Linked DNA regions of Homo sapiens. The protein of the gene in region 3 interacts with the protein of the main gene of each other region in a pairwise test. Each region holds a gene or a part of one and is shown on either strand. Other genes may lie near its edges.

What was found. Proteins that work in one complex are often made in the same cells at the same time.
Region 1: the proteins of VEZF1 (region 3) and ARHGEF9 interact in binary tests that used the Homo sapiens proteins (3 or more experiments, as listed by UniProt).
Region 2: the proteins of VEZF1 (region 3) and KCTD7 interact in binary tests that used the Homo sapiens proteins (3 or more experiments, as listed by UniProt).

Annotation. Positions count from the first base shown.
Region 1 is NC_000023.11:63,649,178-63,656,214, reverse strand, and holds part of ARHGEF9 (rho guanine nucleotide exchange factor 9), read left to right. Parts: intron 1-477; coding exon 478-721; intron 722-7,037. UniProt on the Homo sapiens protein: Acts as a guanine nucleotide exchange factor (GEF) for CDC42. Promotes formation of GPHN clusters.
Region 2 is NC_000007.14:66,638,881-66,643,584, forward strand, and holds the end of KCTD7 (BTB/POZ domain-containing protein KCTD7), read left to right. Parts: coding exon 1-352; 3' UTR 353-1,513; coding exon of another isoform or gene 1,514-1,514; 3' UTR 1,515-4,167; downstream 4,168-4,704. UniProt on the Homo sapiens protein: May be involved in the control of excitability of cortical neurons.
Region 3 is NC_000017.11:57,978,254-57,985,290, reverse strand, and holds part of VEZF1 (vascular endothelial zinc finger 1), read left to right. Parts: exon of another isoform or gene 1-31; coding exon of another isoform or gene 32-37; intron 38-1,897; coding exon 1,898-2,592; intron 2,593-3,354; coding exon 3,355-3,418; intron 3,419-4,486; coding exon of another isoform or gene 4,487-4,504; coding exon 4,505-4,688; intron 4,689-5,977; coding exon 5,978-6,139; intron 6,140-7,037. UniProt on the Homo sapiens protein: Possible transcription factor. Specifically binds to the CT/GC-rich region of the interleukin-3 promoter and mediates tax transactivation of IL-3.

The DNA.
Region 1 (7,037 bases), on a different chromosome or scaffold from region 3:
TAATCCTTTGCCAGCAGTCTGTGGCCTCCTAGCTACTCTTACTACTCAGTCCCCCTCTGATGTTCAGGTCTCACTGGCCTGCACAGATATTTGAACACACTCCAGGCAACCAGCCAGCTCATTTCATACCTCTAGTGGGCTTGCTGATGTTTTCGAAAAGGAGAAGCCCTTGCTAGCCGTGTTTATGTGGCTTACTGTTTCCTACCTCCCATCAGCAGACTTGCACACACGTCCAAGGATTGATTCTGGTGTCTGAAATGATCTTTCGAGGTGAGACAGAGGCTTTTTCTTTGGGCATCTAGTTAACCAACCTGTCAGTGTCAGACTACTAGTATAACCTGGCCAAATTTAGAACAAACCAACCCCCATTGGTACTTCAAAACGGTGACAGTGTTAGCATTCTGCTGTGCCCCTGTGCCAACTCTTCTAGTACTCGCCGTGCACATACCTTCAAGAAACCTCTTCCTTCCCATCTAGGACCTAATCCGGAGAGACATCCTGTACTACAAAGGCCGCATTGACATGGATAAATATGAGGTAGTTGACATTGAGGATGGCAGAGATGATGACTTCAATGTCAGCATGAAGAATGCCTTTAAGCTTCACAACAAGGAGACTGAGGAGATACATCTGTTCTTTGCCAAGAAGCTGGAGGAAAAAATACGCTGGCTCAGGGCTTTCAGAGAAGAGAGGAAAATGGTACAGGAAGATGAAAAAATTGGTAAGTGACCTGAGAGTAGAAAGAAGAACATGGCTATGAAGAACATAGGAGGTTTGAATTGGTTTCCATTTTCTTGGAGTCAGAGGGAAGATTTCTGTTGCAAACTGACTTAAGCTACTTTGGTGGTTCCTTATTATTAGGTTCTTTTTGGTAAGTACCAATAGCTTCCATTAGTCAGTGGTAGGTTTGAACTATAGGTTGTCCTCCCCTACTAGCTAAGAATATCACACTGAAAGCCAGCCTCAGGCTTGATTCTCCCAAACATACATTTATTAGCAAATAAACAAAAATCAGTTATACAACCTGTTCTGTAATCTTCATAAAGCCTGAGCTCTCTGTCATTAGGTATATAGTTTGTACTCCTGATTAGGATACTTCAGATGTTAACTAAATCCCCCTAGACTGTAGATTCAAATAATATGCACATACACTTCACACTTTCTGTGTGGAAGTATTTAAAGTAAATTATAGAAAATATAACAGGACTTAAAACCATGACCATTTTCATGATTTCAAATCACACTGAAACATACTTTTTTGCCTTACAATAAGTTGTTTCTCTTTTCCAGTGGGGATATAGATAGTAGAGATATTTTTCATGTTGCTTCCCAACTGTGGGATTTAGACGCCATTGGCTATAGCTTTGTGACTTATAAAGTACTGTCTGGTCTCTTGCTCATGGTCCTGCCTTTCTGTCATAAAAAATACCAAGCAACCAGACTTGTTAATTCCCTGAGAAGACATACAGTTTCTGTCTTTGCCCTATTGCTTATGGGAGTGAAATTGTACTTTAGAAGGCCTGAAAGCTCAAGTTTATGGAAATTGTCTCTAGAAAAATGGGCCTACTCATTGAATCCTGGTGCAAAAGGGTTCTCTTATCCTTCCATGTGGGCGATTGAAATTATCCAGAGGTAAGAAAGGATGGTCAGAAAGACAAATCTAACTCCAGTCTTCTCCTCAGAACTTGGGTAGAGTGCAAATTAATAACTCACTTTGAGTCTCATTGGAATCAGACTGCTTTCAGTATGTGGACACTCCATTGGGACATGATGTGGAGTGGCATATAAATGTTGCTGGCTACTTCTCTCAATAGCAAGCAGCAGCAGCCACTGACCTTGCCTAGGCTGTTAGAGTTATTAAAGGAATGGTCTTAGTGTTCAGACCCTGAATCAATTAGAAGGCCCCTGCCATTCCCATTGGCTCTAACACAATGTCTCCCACACAATGCCCTAATAAACCTGTGACTTTATCTGCTTCTAATAGAAAAGCTTCTAGAAATTACTTTCTGAACAGGCATATGTTCATCTTTAAAAATGTTGAGGTTTTTTTTTTTTGGTTTGATAATAACAGTAAATCACTTCCATTGTAGGAAATTTAGGGAAAAAGCAACAGAAAAGTACAAGAAAAAAAAAAAACACATGAACATACTCAGTAATAACTTTCATAAACATTTTGATATATATTTCCAGCCTTTTTTATGTGTCTAATTAGAAAAATCAAGGTGACTGAATCTTTTTTCTTTCTCTCCCCATACCTGCCTCTCTATAGTGGATAGATATAATTTTGTATCCTCATTTTCACTCATCATTATATCATTAGCATTTCTATCAGATCACTTCATATTTTTAATCATTATTTTATGAGGGTCATATAGTTTTATCATAGCTTTTTTAAACTTTTACTTTTTAATTATAAAATTAATGCATGACCATTATAACCATTTAAACAAATATGGAAATATATAAAGAAAACTTAGCATTCCTTCCCCTTCTCTGTCACTTCCATACTGAATGAAATAACCAGTGTTAACAGTGCAGTATGCATCTTTCCATACTTATCTCATGTCCATATAAACATATACAAACATAATACTTTTATATTTACAAAAATTATATTATATATATTACCTTGTAGGTTGCTTTTTTAAACTTAATTTATCATAAGTAACTCCCCAGATAAATAATATAGAATCTAACTATAACCCCTTGTATCAGTTAGGGTTCAACCAAAGAGGCATAACCTGTAGGAGATATATCATACCACTGCTGAAAATTGCATTACAAGGAATTGGCTTATGTGATTGTGAATGTTGACTAAGTGGCTCAGAATTCCATAGAGCAGGCAGTCAGAAATGGAGGATCACAGGCAGGCTCAAACCCATGGACATAGGCCAAAGCTGTCATCTACAGGCAGTCAGGAAGAGAAGCTCATGAGAAGGATGAAGTGGCACAGACATGGGCTAAAGCTGTGGTGCACAGGTAGAATTTCTGCCCTTTCTGTGTGAGACCTAGGCTCTACTTTTAAGGTCTTGCAACAGATTCAGTCAGGTCCATCCAGATTATCTAGGATATTGTCCCTTATATAAAGTCAACTGATTAGGGCCTGTATTAGCCCATGTTCACAGTGCTATAAATACCTGAGACTGGGTAATTTATGAAGAAAAGAGGTTTAATTGACTCACAGTTCTGCAGGCTTAACAGGAAGCATCACTGGGAGGCCTCAGGAAATTTAGAATCATAGTAGAAGGCAAAGGGGAAGCAAGCATCTTCTTCACATAGTGGCAGGAGAGAGAGAGAGCAAGAGGGAAGTGCCACATACTTTTAAACCATCAGATCTCGTGAGAACTCACCCACTATCATGAGAACAGCATGGGAGAAATTCCCCCCATGATCCAATCACCTCCCACTAGGCCCCTCCCCCAACACATGGGGATTACCATTCCACATGAGATTTGGGTGGGGACACAGAGCCAAACCGTATCAGGGGCTTTGATTATATCTGTAAAATACCTTCATGGCAACACCTACATTAGTGAGGACTACAGTCTAGTCGAATGGGCACATCAATAAATTCATCACACTTTTCTTATAAACAGCTGTATAACATTCCATAATATTATGTAATAACCACAGTCATCTCTTGGTATGCACGGGATATTGGTTCCAGGACTCCCGTGCATATCAAAATCCATGGATGCTCAAATCCCTTATATAAAATGATATAGTATTTACATATAACCTATGTACATCCTCCATATACTTTCAATCATTTCTAGATTATTTATAATACCTAACACAATGTAAATGCTATGTAAATAATTGTTATACTGTATTGTTTAGGGAATAAAAACAAGGCAAAAATCCATATGTGTTCAGTAAAGAAGCAACCAGCCGCTTTTTTCTGCATATTTTTGATCCACAGTTGATTGAATCCAGATGTGGAACCCATGGTTACAGAGGGCTGACTGTTCGTTTTTTGCTAGACATTCATTTTATATTTAGCTTTATTTCCCACTACAGATATTGCTGCAATAAATATCCATGTACGTATCTGATTGTTACTTACTGATGCTTTTATTCCTGTAGGATCTGTACCCTAAAGTGGAATGACTGAATGTTAGGATGTGAACAGTTTTAATACATACTTGCATATTAAATTCTGAAAGATTTGTAGAATCTATACTCCTAGCATAATTTTATGAGTACCCACTTCCGCATAGCCTCACCAGCACTGGATAGTATCTATTTGTTTCAGTTTGCCATTTCTCAACTAGTAAATTGAAAAAAAGTGTTGGAACCTTTTTTTTTTCATATGCTTAATGGCTATTTTCATTTCTTTTGTGAATTGCCTCATACCCTTTACTCATTCTTTTAACATAAATTTGGAAGGACTCTATATTGTTGATGTGACACTTTGTCAGTCACGAATTTCACGTTTTCACCAGTCTGTTTTTTGTCTTTTGAGTTTGTTTATATTGCCTACTTCTATAAATATTTAAATTTTTACTTTGAAAAATGTATCTATTATTCCTTTTTTGGCCCCTAGTTTCATCTTGCTTAAGATCTCTTGCCATCCAAACTATAAAATTTCCTGATTAAAAATATATTTTTGGTTTATTTTTAGAACAGTAATCCATCCGGAATTTACATTTTTATATGATGTGAGAAAGGGGACCTCATTTTTTTCTTCAAGGTGGATAGTCAGTTGCATCTGCATCATTTATTAAATAAATCATTTATTTTCCACACAGTTTAAATGCCATTTTTCATATATAGTAACTCTGCATATATACTTAGATGTGTTTTTAAACTTTCTATTCTGTTCCACTCTTCTGTTTGTCATTTCTTGTATCAAGACTATGCTGTTTCAATTACAGTAGATTTTGAGAAAGATTTAATGCCTGGTACAATCAATTCTTATTCACTCTTATCATTGCTTCTTAGCAGTTCTTAGATGTTTATTCTTTGATATGAATATCAAATTTATTTATTCTAGGTTTAAAAACACTGCCGTAAAAACTGGCATAGAAAGCCCATTTGGATTCTGATTGGCATTATATTAAATTTTTTAATATGTAACGGCTTGGCATTGTTATTAAGTTTTCACATTTAAGACAAGGCTCTGCTCTCCTTTCATCAAAATCTTGTTCTGTATGCTTCAGGAAAATGGTAGAGTTTTCTTTAGATTCTGTACATTTCTGCCTCTTTGTACATTACTTTTGATAATTTCTATTTTTCTGGGAAATTGTTCATTTCCTCTGGATTTTTAATTTAATGCTATATATCTACACATAATATTTTCTAATTATCATATCTTCCATAATTGTAGTTATCTCTCTTCTTTTGGGTTCATAATATTTCATATATTTTTATTTTCTCACTTTAATCTTTTAATCAGGCTTATCAGGGAGTATTGATCTTTTTTATGTATATATAATCATTATACATATTTTTAAGGTACATGTGATATTTTGATACCTGTATACAATGTGTAATGATCAAATCAGGGTAATTGCGATATTCATCACCTCAAATGCTCATCTTTTCTTTGTGTTGGGAACATTCCAAATATTTTTTTTAGCTATTTTGAGATATACAATAAATTATTATTAACTCTAATTTCCCTACTGTCCTATCACAAACTAAATCTTATTCCTTCTAACTGTGTTTTTGTACCTATTAACCAGCCCCTCTCCATTGACCTGAGCCTTTCTTTCTGAGCCACTGATAATCACCATTCTACTCTCTATCTTTATGAAATCCACCTTTCAGCTCCCATGTATGAGGGAAAATAATCTTATTTCACTTAACATAATATCCTCCAGTTCCATCCATGTTTCTGCAGATGACAGGATTTCATTTTTTTATGGCTGAATAATATAACATCGTGTATATATGCCACATTTCCTTTATACATTAATCCACTGATGGGCATTTAGGTTGATTTCATATTTTGGTTATTGTGAATAATGCTGTGATAAACATGAGAGCATAGATATTTCCTCGGTATATTGATATCCTTTCTTTTGGATACATACCCAGCAGTGGCATTGCTGGATTATATAGTAGTTCTATTTTTAATTTTTTTAGGAACTTTTCTACTGTTTTTCTATAATGGCTGTACTAATTTACATTTGGTCGTTTCAAAGAACGTGTTTTTGGTTTGTTTATCCCTTCTGCAGTTTATTTCTGTTTCTTCTTAATTTTCACTTTTATTTCCTTCTTTTTCCTACTTTCAGGATTTAAGGAATATTTTAGATCCTTTCCACTCTTTCATTGACTGAATACTTACTTTGTTTATTTTGATTTTTACAAAATCAGAAAATCATTTTAGACATGGGAGGGTGTATGTGTCGAGGAATTTGTCCATTTCTTCTAGATTTTCTAGTTTATTTGCGTAGAGGTGTTTATAGTATTCTCTGATGGTAGTTTGTATTTCTGTGGGATCAGTGGTGATATCCCCTTTATCATTTTTTATTGTGTCTATTTGATTCTTCTCTCTTTTCTTCTTTATTAGTCTTGCTAGTGGTCTATCAATTTTGTTGTTCTTTTCAAAAAACCAGCTCCTGGATTCATTGATTTTTTGAAGGGTTTTTTGTGTCTCTATTTCCTTCAGTTCTGCTCTGATCTTAGTTATTTCTTGCATTCTGCTACCTTTTGAATGTATTTGCTCTTGCTTCTCTAGTTCTTTTAATTGTGATGTTAGGGTGTCAATTTAAGATCTTTCCTGCTTTCTCTTGTGGGCATTTAGTGCTATAAATTTCCCTCTACACACTGCTTTGAATGTGTCCCAGAGATTCTGGTATGTTGTGTCTTTGTTCTCATTGGTTTCAAAGAACATCTTTATTTCTGCCTTCATTTCGTTATGTACCCAGTAGTCATTCAGGAGCAGGTTGTTCAGTTTCCATGTAGTTGAGCGGTTTTGAGTGAGTTTCTTAATCCTGAGTTCTAGTTTGATTTCACTGTGGTCTGAGAGACAGTTTGTTATAATTTCTGTTCTTTTACATTTGCTGAGGAGTGCTTTACTATGTGGTCAA
Region 2 (4,704 bases), on a different chromosome or scaffold from region 3:
CGCCCGGCTGCGTGCGGTCCAGCGGAAGGCCCGCTTTGCCAAGCTCAAGGTCTGTGTCTTCAAGGAGGAGATGCCCATCACCCCCTATGAGTGTCCGCTCCTCAACTCCCTGCGATTTGAGCGGAGTGAGAGTGACGGGCAGCTTTTTGAGCACCACTGTGAAGTGGATGTGTCTTTTGGGCCCTGGGAGGCTGTGGCTGATGTTTATGACCTGCTGCACTGCCTGGTCACGGACCTCTCGGCCCAGGGTCTCACCGTGGACCACCAGTGCATCGGGGTGTGTGACAAGCACCTCGTGAACCACTACTACTGCAAGCGCCCCATCTATGAGTTCAAGATCACATGGTGGTGAGTAGCCCCGGTAGGCGAGAGTCCCATCAGGGAGGATGTCCACCTTGCTTGGTGGCTCTGGGAGTAAGATCCCTGAAGGGGCTGCTGACTGCCCCAGAATCTGCCGAGGTGAGAACAGCATCCTGAGGCACAGCTCCCAGGGGACAGAGGTGTAGCTCCAATCTCCCTGACTGCACCTCAGGGTTGGGCTCAGGGCTTGCGGCCTGCAGGCACTCCAGCCAGCGCTCACCTGGCCTTTCCTCAAGGCATGGTAGTCTTTCCTTGAGGCTGATAGCTAGGGCTTGACCAGGAAGTCCCGAGAAGTTTTGTCACCTTCTTGACCTTGCAAGAGAGTTTCTGCCCATTTTAGAGCCACGTTACCAAATCGATGTAGGCCTAATCACTTCCTCAACCCTGTTCAAGCGTCCCTCCCTTGTGCTCAGTATATTGGTGTGAACACGGAACATGATGGGGGATTTACCTGACCAGCCACCCCATAGCCCCTGGCTGAAGAAGAAAGAGCATCTTCTCTCCCACTGCACCCCTTCTCCTCCAAGAATAGTTGCCCACATTCCCAAAATGTGGAAAGACTTTTCTTTTCCTTCCGGAACATGTTCTTCACCACCTTTTGGAGATTTAACCATAGCTGCCAAAGCTATGCACCCAGTTGGCCTTAGAAAACCACAATGTTTACAGCCCTGTCTTAGGGCCGCGGCTTCTCTTATCTTCCACCACCTTCCTTGCTTGCAGGGTTATCTTCTCACAGGGCTGGAATGCAAATTTCAGAGGCTTCTTTTGAAGATTCCCCAAGTCAAGCAGGCAAGATGCCTAGATCTTCTGTTATCTTTGACATGTAACATCCTTTTTAGAGGCTCAGAACACCTCCTTGGCTGCTATCTCATGTGTTAGAATCCAGTTTGTGGTGAACCTCTTTGGAAGGGGACCCCCTCTCTTTAAACCCTGTTCCTCTGTCCTGGTAACATTCTCCTTCTAGGAGAGCCTCTCTTCTGAGAAGGTAAAGGAAGGGCTGGGTGAGACACACAGCTATCCTAGGAGCCGTAGGAAGACAAAACTTCCCTTTTGTTTTACTCCTCACTCCTCTATTTTTGTTTTACTCACTTCTTTATATTTTGTTTTACTCCTCACTCCTGTATATTTTGGTTTACTTACTCCTCTATTTCAGAAATTGAAAAAGATCCCCAAGGATCTGTTACTACTGCATTTCCTTCTTGCTCTGTCTACAGCCTAGGCCAACTAGTCAGGGTCTGGACATGCATCTCCTAAAGGAAGAACTGTGTAGCACCATTGATCACAATGTAACATTTCCATGCTGCATTAAGGGTGTCTCTCTCTAATCATGATTGTACCTGTCTCTTCCTGGGTAAAGGGAGATTTTTTTTTTTAATGTGTAAAGAATTGATGCGAGCCAGGAACATGTCTGTAGTCCCAGCTACTTGGGCACACGCCTGTAGTCCAGGCCACTCGAGCACACACCTGTAGTACCAGCTACTCTGGAGGCTGAGGCAGGAGGATCACTTGAGCCCAGGAGATTAAGACTGTAGTATACTATGATCGTGCCTGTGGCTAGCCACTGTGCTCCAGCCTGGGCAACACCATCGTAAAAATAAATAAATAAATAAATAAATTGGGGAGGACAGCCTCACTGGTATCAGACTTACAGGACCAGATAGACAAGATGGGTATAAGGGGAGCTGAAGTCTGTGTTCATATGAGGAAGAGAAGACCAAGCCCTGGGACTTTGGCTGAATTCCTCCGTGGGGCTGGACGGCAGTGATCTCCTGTTCCCTATGTGTAAACAAAGATTCCAGGGCGTGGTTTTGCACTCCTGTTGTACTCTTTTAGAGGTGGAAAAGAGGTGGATACTGAGATCTAAGAGGAAAGGATAGTCATTCACGTTCTGAGATATGCGCTCTCTCTATTGTTCTCGTACACAAAGGGATAGTCTCTTTTCTGGAGCTGATGTCCCTGCTTGGAGGTTAGCCCCAAAACATGGCTCTTGTATTGTTCTAAGAGAAAAGGCTTTCATTTTGGTTCTTCTGATTGGTGTTACCTACTGCCTAATATGTGTTCATTTTTTGACAGAGAGGCAGACTATTGAAAAAGTCTGTGTGAACAGAGAGCAGTTCATTAAGCCCATTGCTTTCAGTAATGTGGCCTTGACCCCTTCTGCTTCCCCCTTCTCCCATGGAGCATGGCAGGGCTTGGTTATTTAGAGTCCATACATGCAAGCCATTGAGAGACTTGTTTGCTCAAATGCAAGTTTGCTCAAAAACAGGTCCTGAAGGCTTGCTTAGGATTACAGGGATGCTGGGTAAGAACACCGTTCCTCTCTCTCGCTGGAGAAATCCCTGTTTCTCTGACTCCCTTTGTGATCCTCACAGTAATGTATTCTGTGCCACTGTAGGACACAAGGCTCTGGGCCAGTAGAACAGGCAGAGAGGTGACACTGGGCAGCAAGCTGAGAGCTCTTTCTAAATGGAGTGAAGGAATTCAGTGGCCTAGTTTCGCCATTCTCTAATGAGAAACCAAGGCCAGGCTGAAAAGTGCAATTAGATGTGGTGGATTGTGGTAACGGCCTCCAGATAAAGGGGTTATCCCTGTGGAAGTGACTTTTCCCCATTTGATCCCTTTTCAACTCTAAATGGCCAGGCCCAGAACAGAAGAAGGGTTGGGTCTGGAAGGAAGGCTCCAAAGGATGAAAGCTTCTCCCTGATCATAAGGAAGTGCATCTTTATAGAATTGTTGTGCATAATGTCAGTAAATCCCTCTCACTTGACAAGGGACTGGATTCATCTTGCCTTGAGACGGGCCAGTAGTTATCAGTGAGTCAAAGCAAAGTGAAAGTTTCAGGAGATGGGACCAATGGTGCAATGCTCGCCATAACAAAATTCCTTAAAAATAAAAAAGCTAATGTTATAGCAACAAAAAAAGACTGAAGCAAAACCACACTGAAATGCATCCCACTCCAGGAGAGGAATTCTTAGCGTAACACTCTAAATAAATGGAAGGAATCATCACCTTCCTTATTTTACCTCTGCCTTGTTCACCAGGCTGCCCAGTGCTTACCATGCAGAAAGCAGTCAGCTGTACTCTGGAAGTTTCTGTTCTTCTTTCCTGGGGCTTAGGATATTCTGGGAGCTGTCTGAGCCTTGTGCCTAAGGCTTATCAGGTGATATAATCTTCCTGTTCTGGGCTGCTTGCTGGAGGAATAGGAAGTGACATTTATAAGACACAGGCGGTGTGAGCATCCATGTGTGGTCTTGGTCTAAACCAGCTCTTGAACAGGTTAAAGCAAACAGCAATAACAAAACAAAAACTACTGATGCTGAGCGTTTTGATCCTAGTAATATTTCAAATATTGTCCTTCTGCATATGTTCTATCCATATTTGATTCCAATATACATTATTAAGCTTTCTTGGGTACTATTTTGCTGGGGCTCTTGCGTGAAGGTGGTACCTGTCTCATGATCCTTAAAAGAGAGAGGCTTTTTTCATCCAAAGCTGTAGTGTTGGGAACTGGGGTGGGAGAGGCACTTTTTGGAATTCTGAAAGAATCATATCTGTGTATATACATACTGAGTGGGGAAGGATGGGGGTTGGCAGGGGTTGAGGGAGGTGGGAACAAACAGTGAGTATGGGAACAGGCAGTCACCTCGAGTGTGGGAGGTCACCTGGGTCCGTCGTCTTCCTTCTGTATGGTGTTGGGTTTATGTACACACTATAACACTTCCTGTGTGAGTTCATGTACCTGTCTGTGAGTGCTTTGGTGTATTGAGCCTCAGTACACTCCAAGGGCATTAAAGTCAAGAACTAGAACCTGGGTGCTGTGCCTTTCTTTTTTAGAGATGTGCTCTCATCTCTTCTCTGACCCCCACTTTGCCAGCAAATATTTTTTATTTCTGCTTAAAATGTGGTGTGTTTGGGGATGCCCCACACAACAAGACAGGCTTTTCCCTGAGACCAGCAGCTGAATTTCTGCCCTGAAAGGGAGGTGGGCCTCTTGAGGACCCTTCTAGAGTTACTCTAGACTTGTCCCTGTTTCATGTAGGCATGTGCCCACCCCAGCCTAGGCAAAATCTCTGTCCTCTTCTTTTGGGAGTTCTCCAAGGAAAGAAGAGACTGCAGGTGCAGTCACGTGTGTGGCTCACAACCATGTCAGGTAGTTCTAAAATAAATTCCTCCTGTCATATTACCACTTCCTTTTCAATGGGGGAAATAAGTAGCTCTAAATTTATGTAAGCCTCAGTGGTTAAGACCCTTCCTTAAGAAAAATGGACGTAAGTTGCCCTTCCTTTGAAAGCAGAGCTTGACACCTTCCTGGCTAATGAGTGTCCTCATCAAGATGCCCCCTGG
Region 3 (7,037 bases):
TTATGTTGCCACAGACATCTGAATTGGTAAAATGGCAGTAAGTGCTTTTAGTACTCCATCGTACTAATGGTTGTTTAGAGTTGAAAAATGCCTCTAAATGCTATAAGTCTGAACTTTGTCCAGAAGATCTGCATTCCCTATTATCTGATCTGTTAGCCTTTGAAATTGTATATCTTCAGCTATCTTCAGCTATTAACTATTTGTATACTGTATGGAAACGAGTATCCTACAGCCAGGTTGGAAAAGGGGTTACAACTGGAGTCCAAATTCTGTAAAGTTTCTGCTGATGTCACCTGGGTAGATAGACCCTTACATTTACAGGAGCTTCACAAATTAGATTAAAAGCGGACTGTAATTTGCTAGGAGCAGTTAAGTCCAGAAAGAGACTCATAAGTAACCACATAATTTCTGAGAATGCTTCCAGGACTCAAAGGGTGATTACATCAAAATTATTAAATTGAAACTGAGAACTCTGGATACCACACCTCCTAATCGTTTGGGGGAGACTAGTTCCAGGCTTAACTGTTATGCTGCCATCAAGTAAACATAGAAGCAATGTGTGGTAGATGTTCTTACCCATCAGAGGAGGAGCTGTGAGTGTGTGTGTGTTTCTCTTTGTTTTTTTGTCCTTAAGTTAGCTGTGGGACTTGTGGTTATAGAGTAAGAAGGGTAAGTAACCGTCTAAAGTGTCTAAAATGATGGGATGGGCCCCTAGTAGGACATTGTATGCTTAAAATATTTGAAACTCCTCTTGAGTGCATGCATCTTATTAGGATTACAAAACTCAAGCATAGGGGCTTGGGCTCACTGTCAAGAGTTTCAAAAATAATGTTGGTAAAGAACAACGTATTAGGAAGAACTATTTCAGGAATTTTTTCCATCATTTCCTAAATGTTTATCAGTATGGAGAATTTTGAAAGTATCAGAACCAAGAGAGTAACTACTCATAAATGTCAAGAACCTGATCCATGGTGAAATTTTGGTTTCATTGCGGCTAAAAGAATTTCCAGTGTGCAGCCTCCAGTTTTGGGAGTGGAGAAGCACATCATAAGAGCAAATGTCTAATACTTTATTGAAACCTACAACTGCTGGAAGAAGATGAATATGAAAGGAATTTAAGTGTTTATAGTTTGTTTTTCTCATTAGTCTGTCTTTGAGAGTTTGGGATTTGAACAGATAGTGTTGCTGAAAGATGCAGACTTCAGTATACAATTAAATGACCTGAGAAACAACTGACAGGTGTTTGCTATGGGCTGCCTTCACAGATGCCTTCCAGGTTGCTTCATAGCAGATTTTGTTTCAACCAAACCTTTTAGTAGAGTCAAGTGAAAACTTAACGTTAACGACTAGCAAATGTATTTAGAGAACTAGATTTCTTTCATCACTTAGCAACAGCCCCTTCCTCAATCTGAGTTTTCTGATAGAAAGACATGATGCTTTTCTTCTGGATAATAGACAAATAGATGATTGTGTTATTGCATGTATGTGAGTGTGTATGTGTGTATTGCTGCAGTAAGGTACTATTAAATACTTAAATCTGGAGTGGTTTTTTTAAGTAAGTTATTTAAACTTGGTTTCAGCGCTGACAGACTAATGCAAACTGATTTCATCAGCTGGTCTGTCCCTTATGAACCAGGATAGTGTGTAGTTTAGTCAGCTGTTTAAAAGCAAGATCACTGTCAGCAACTTAGTTGCAAAAGTTTTGTGTCTGCACAGTGATTTTTCAATGCTTTGTATTGTGAGCTCTTAGAGTAACTAGGTGGTTGCTGGATTACCACTGCAGAGTAGCTTATAGGTTCTTTGACTGTTTCTTCTGGTCTCTATTGTCTGGAGCATGTTGAATTTCGAAGGCCATTGTGAGAGGCTGAGTTTCTGAAGTGTAAATGTTTGGTTTTAGGCCCATGAAGCTTCCCATCACCAACAGCAGGCAGCACAGAACAGCTTGCTGCCCCTCCTGAGCTCTGCCGTGGAGCCCCCTGATCAGAAACCATTGCTTCCAATACCAATAACTCAGAAACCTCAGGGTGCACCAGAAACATTAAAGGATGCCATTGGGATTAAAAAAGAAAAACCCAAAACTTCATTTGTGTGCACTTACTGCAGTAAAGCTTTCAGGGACAGCTATCACCTGAGGCGCCACGAATCCTGCCACACAGGGATCAAGTTGGTGTCCCGGCCAAAGAAAACCCCCACCACGGTGGTTCCCCTTATCTCTACCATCGCTGGGGACAGCAGCCGAACTTCGTTGGTCTCGACCATTGCAGGCATCTTGTCAACAGTCACTACATCTTCCTCGGGCACCAACCCCAGTAGCAGTGCCAGCACCACAGCTATGCCAGTGACCCAGTCTGTCAAGAAACCCAGTAAGCCTGTCAAGAAGAACCATGCTTGTGAGATGTGTGGGAAGGCCTTCCGAGATGTGTACCATCTCAATCGACACAAGCTCTCCCATTCAGATGAGAAACCCTTTGAGTGTCCTATTTGTAATCAGCGCTTCAAGAGGAAGGACCGGATGACTTACCATGTGAGGTCTCATGAAGGAGGCATCACCAAACCCTATACTTGCAGTGTTTGTGGGAAAGGCTTCTCAAGGTACTGCATTTTGCTTTGCTTTGCTTTGCTTCATTATGGTATCAGTGTACTTCAGTTTTGTCTCCATGTGATCTAGAATGTTTATGTGAGAACAGATGTGGGCAGACCTGTGTTATTAGAGGAGATTGGTGATAGATAAGTATTAACACCTCCAGGTCTAACCTCAGTTTGGTGTGATTGACAAGTGGTGACATAGTGATTAACCTGTTTTTTTCACTTAACAAGTGCCTCGGTGGACTCAGGCTTTCATTTGGCACATGGATACTTATCACTGCAAAACCACCAGTTTTCAGTTCAGTTGGGGGACTAGACATGAGGCTCACTGGGCAAATTAAAGTAACATTTCTTGGAAGTTGGGATGACCTTGGATACTCTTAATTAAACTTTTAGAATGTTTTTTCATTTTTCTGAGAGCACCAACATTTCACTAATTTTCATTTATAAAAGCTTTTAGAGTTAATATAGTGGTAGCTGTTTCTGGCAAGTGTTAAGACTAAAACTTCGGGTATTTTGTAATTGTAAAGAATCAAGACCTAATATGATTTGATGTTGACTAGGAGAGAAAATTAACAGGTAGAGGCCTAAGACTTTGTTCATGGTAAGAGAGGGAAGGAGACTTGCACCGGGGGAGGGAGGTTGGTAATTCTGCTAGCTTTCCCTAAAATGCACCCCTTCCCAATCTGCCAAGCATGTGAGCATCACATAAGTAGCATTTCTCTATGTGTTCGATTATATCTTCTGTTGAAACTCTCTTTTTCACAGGCCTGACCACTTAAGCTGTCATGTAAAACATGTCCATTCAACAGAAAGACCCTTCAAATGCCAAGTAAGAGTTAAAATGACTTATCCTTAGTGTAGCACTTAATGCACATTATCCAGAAGGTCTGAGCCAGTTGAATCTCACCATTCTTGAATAGTCTTAAAATCACTGACCTGAGTAAATGTGGCCCATTTGACTTCTAGTTTTATAAAATATAACTGACAGCTTCTGTTTCTGTAAAGCAAGATCATTTAAAAATTTAAGCGTGTTGTTTTTTTTAAGCTATATTTCCCTTTCTTTGGGCAATAGTATTTTTTGTTAGGAAAAAAAAGTTACAGTCTTGCAAAGGTGGTTGTGTATTTGAAATGAATAAAAGAATAAAGGGCTTTAATTTCTGGGTTGATTATTGAAGTTGTTTTAACTGTAATAGGAGAAAATAATGAATTTTTCTCCCAAATGTTACCACTTACTAGATTTTTGTTTGTTATTACCAAATTGGAACACTTTCTAGTTGTTTAAAAATCTATTCCAGTTAATGATTTTATTTGACATCAATTATAATAACGAAAACATTAAGAATTTTGCTAAATCAAATGACTGTTTTAGGCATTGGTAATTTTAGTTTGTTGCTGGAAGTCTTTTAGTACACCTTTCAGTTAAGTTTGTTAATGACTGATTTTATTAAGTAAATGATTTGAATGCTAAGAAAGATCTAATTGGAGGAAGGAAGCTAGTGTCATTGAGTGAGTGCCTGCTGTGTATACCAGGCTTTTCTTAATCCACCAGTAATTTTGTGAGAGATGTTATCCCCATTTTACAGATGAAGAAGCTTTCAGATAGGTTAACCAACTTGTTCAACATTACACCATTTAGTAAATTGTGGAGCTCAACTTAAACCCAGGTTTAACTTACCCTAAAGCTTACATTTTTTGTGCTACTCTGTGTTGATGTATTTTCTTCCTTCAAAATGGAAGAGTCTAAAATTTATCAAGAGTTTTATTATGATTATGATTCTAGGTAACATATGCAATTAAAATTCAACTAGTTGTCAGCTTGCTGATGTGGATAGGGTAATGCACAGAATATAACGTACTTCAAAATGAGTAGAACAGGATAGTCTATATTTAAAAAAAGTTTTCCTCCCTCATGCAGACGTGCACTGCTGCCTTTGCCACCAAAGACAGACTGCGGACACACATGGTGCGCCATGAAGGCAAGGTATCATGTAACATCTGTGGGAAGCTCCTGAGTGCAGCATACATCACCAGCCACTTAAAGACTCATGGGCAGAGCCAAAGTATCAACTGTAATACATGTAAACAAGGCATCAGTAAAAGTAGGTGGTGCTTCAGATTTTCTTTCTTTTATATTTCAGATGGGTGAAATATGCATGTTTTCATATTGTATCAAAGGTATTAATATTCACCTTACGTGTTTCCTCCTATTGCCAACATGTGCAAACAGGCAACAATGGACAGAGTATATTAATGTCAGAACTATGCTTTACTTTCATGTATGCAAACAGCATTGATAAGCTAATAATAACCTTTAAGGTGAAAGCAGTATTAATAAGCTTGCTTTTCAAACCCAAATCTGTAGAGAAATGAGATATCATATCCACTTGAAGGTTTAAATGCTTTGCTTGCCTTAAATTCAGAGTTGAAGATAGAATACTTGCATTTACCCAGGCTTTTTCTTTTAAGATTGCCCTAACCACTAGAAGAAGGCATTTTCCTAATCCTTTATTCTATTATATATGTACTTTATGCAGTAGAAACATCAAATTCTCAAAAAAATAGGTGGCCACAAGAGAATGGGGAAGAAAGCTTAATGTGTGTTAATCTATCCATTTTTACTTCTTTGTAAGTACACTGGGTTTGTAAGTACACTTCTTTGTAAGTACACTGGTATGTTGTACTTTATAAGCATTCACTTCTGTTTTTTTTGTTTTTTTTTTTTTTTTTTTTTGAGACGGAGTCTTCACACTGTTGCCCAGGCTGAAGTGCAATGGCACGATCTCGGCTCACTGCAACCTCCGCCTCCTGGGTTCAAGCGATTCTCCTGCCTCAGCCTCCCAAGTAACTGGGATTACAGGTGCACACTGCCATGCCCGATTACCTTTGCTACTTTTTTTGTATTTTCATAGAGACGGCGTTTCACCGTGTTGCCCAGGCTGGTCTCGAACTCCTGAGCCCAGACAGTCCACCTGCCTCGGCCTCCCAAAGTGCTAGGATTACAGGCATGAGCCACTGCACCCGGCCTATAAACATTCACTTTTAGTGTACATTATTGTGATCAAATAAAAAATTTTGTTGAATGTTGATTAGTCCTATATTAATAATATCAAACTTCCATTTTTAAAGACACTTGCTTTTTTTTTTTTTGATGGTTTTTTTTTTATAGCAAAGAGTCCTTTTCTCTTTTATATTGATTTTTGCTAGTTCTCTAGACTTTTTAGTGCTTGTTTATTTTGACCAATATAGACACAGCAGCAAAAAAGATGCACTTACTAAGAGCTATCAGGTTAAATGGTTAAGATCACAGAAGCATGAGAAGTCAATTTTGAAAAAAAACGGCAACAGTTTTACAGGTAGATACAGTGTTTTTGGTTTGTCTTTGTAATAGCATGCATGAGTGAAGAGACCAGTAACCAAAAGCAGCAGCAGCAGCAGCAGCAGCAGCAGCAGCAGCAGCAACAACAACAACAACAACATGTGACAAGCTGGCCAGGGAAGCAAGTAGAAACACTGAGACTGTGGGAAGAAGCTGTTAAAGCAAGGAAGAAAGGTAAGGCACAGCTTCCAGTGTTGAAAATATGGCTAGAGAAGTGTTTTCATTTAGTATGCCAAGTGATCAAAGTAGAGAAGCCACAGTTTTAGGAAATCTAGCTTAATGGAAACATGGAAATAGTGCATGCTGGGAAATATCTGGTAAAGTATAGTTATTGGCAATAAAGTGTCCAGATAAGTTATTACTAGGAATTAAAAGTTCTCAGTACTTCCTATCATGTTCTTTCTTTTGATGTACTTTTTGCTACAAACCTGGATCCAAATTTGGTCCTTTGCTATGCTCAGAGTTGCATTTTTATATTCAATTTGATGTCAACCTCCATGCATTATGGGCTTTTTTTTTCCTTTCTAAAATATTCCCACTTTTAGAGGTGGATATCCTTGTGTGTACATAAGTTCATTTTCTTACAACTGTGCTATTTTTGCTCTGTAGTGTTCTTTTTCATTGTATTATTTATTACATGTTTCAGATTCTGTAGTGTTGATGTCTTTTCTCTTGGTCACACCCTTAATCTCCTTCAGTCTATCACTGGCTGGCCTTAACATATCTAGTCTTCTGCTGCTGAGGACTTTACTGTAATTGTTTAAAAAATTTTAAATGGTTTGCTTTTCTCTCGTGTATATTTTCTAACGAATCAGTTGGAGTATCAGTTTTCAACGTACTTTTCAACTTACTAGTACAGCTTTGGCTTCTGGACTATTGTGCAGCCATTTCAAATGAATCATTTTGTCAATGTATCATGAGCCAAAGGACAGATTTGTAAATTCCTTCTTCCTCCTCCACCTCTACAATGTCTTACTATGTTAAATGTTAAGGAATCCTCTATCTGTGGGCTCCTCTGTATGTAATTCCTTTTCTGTGTAGTTTCTTCCATCTTTTGCTTTCATGTAGTGTG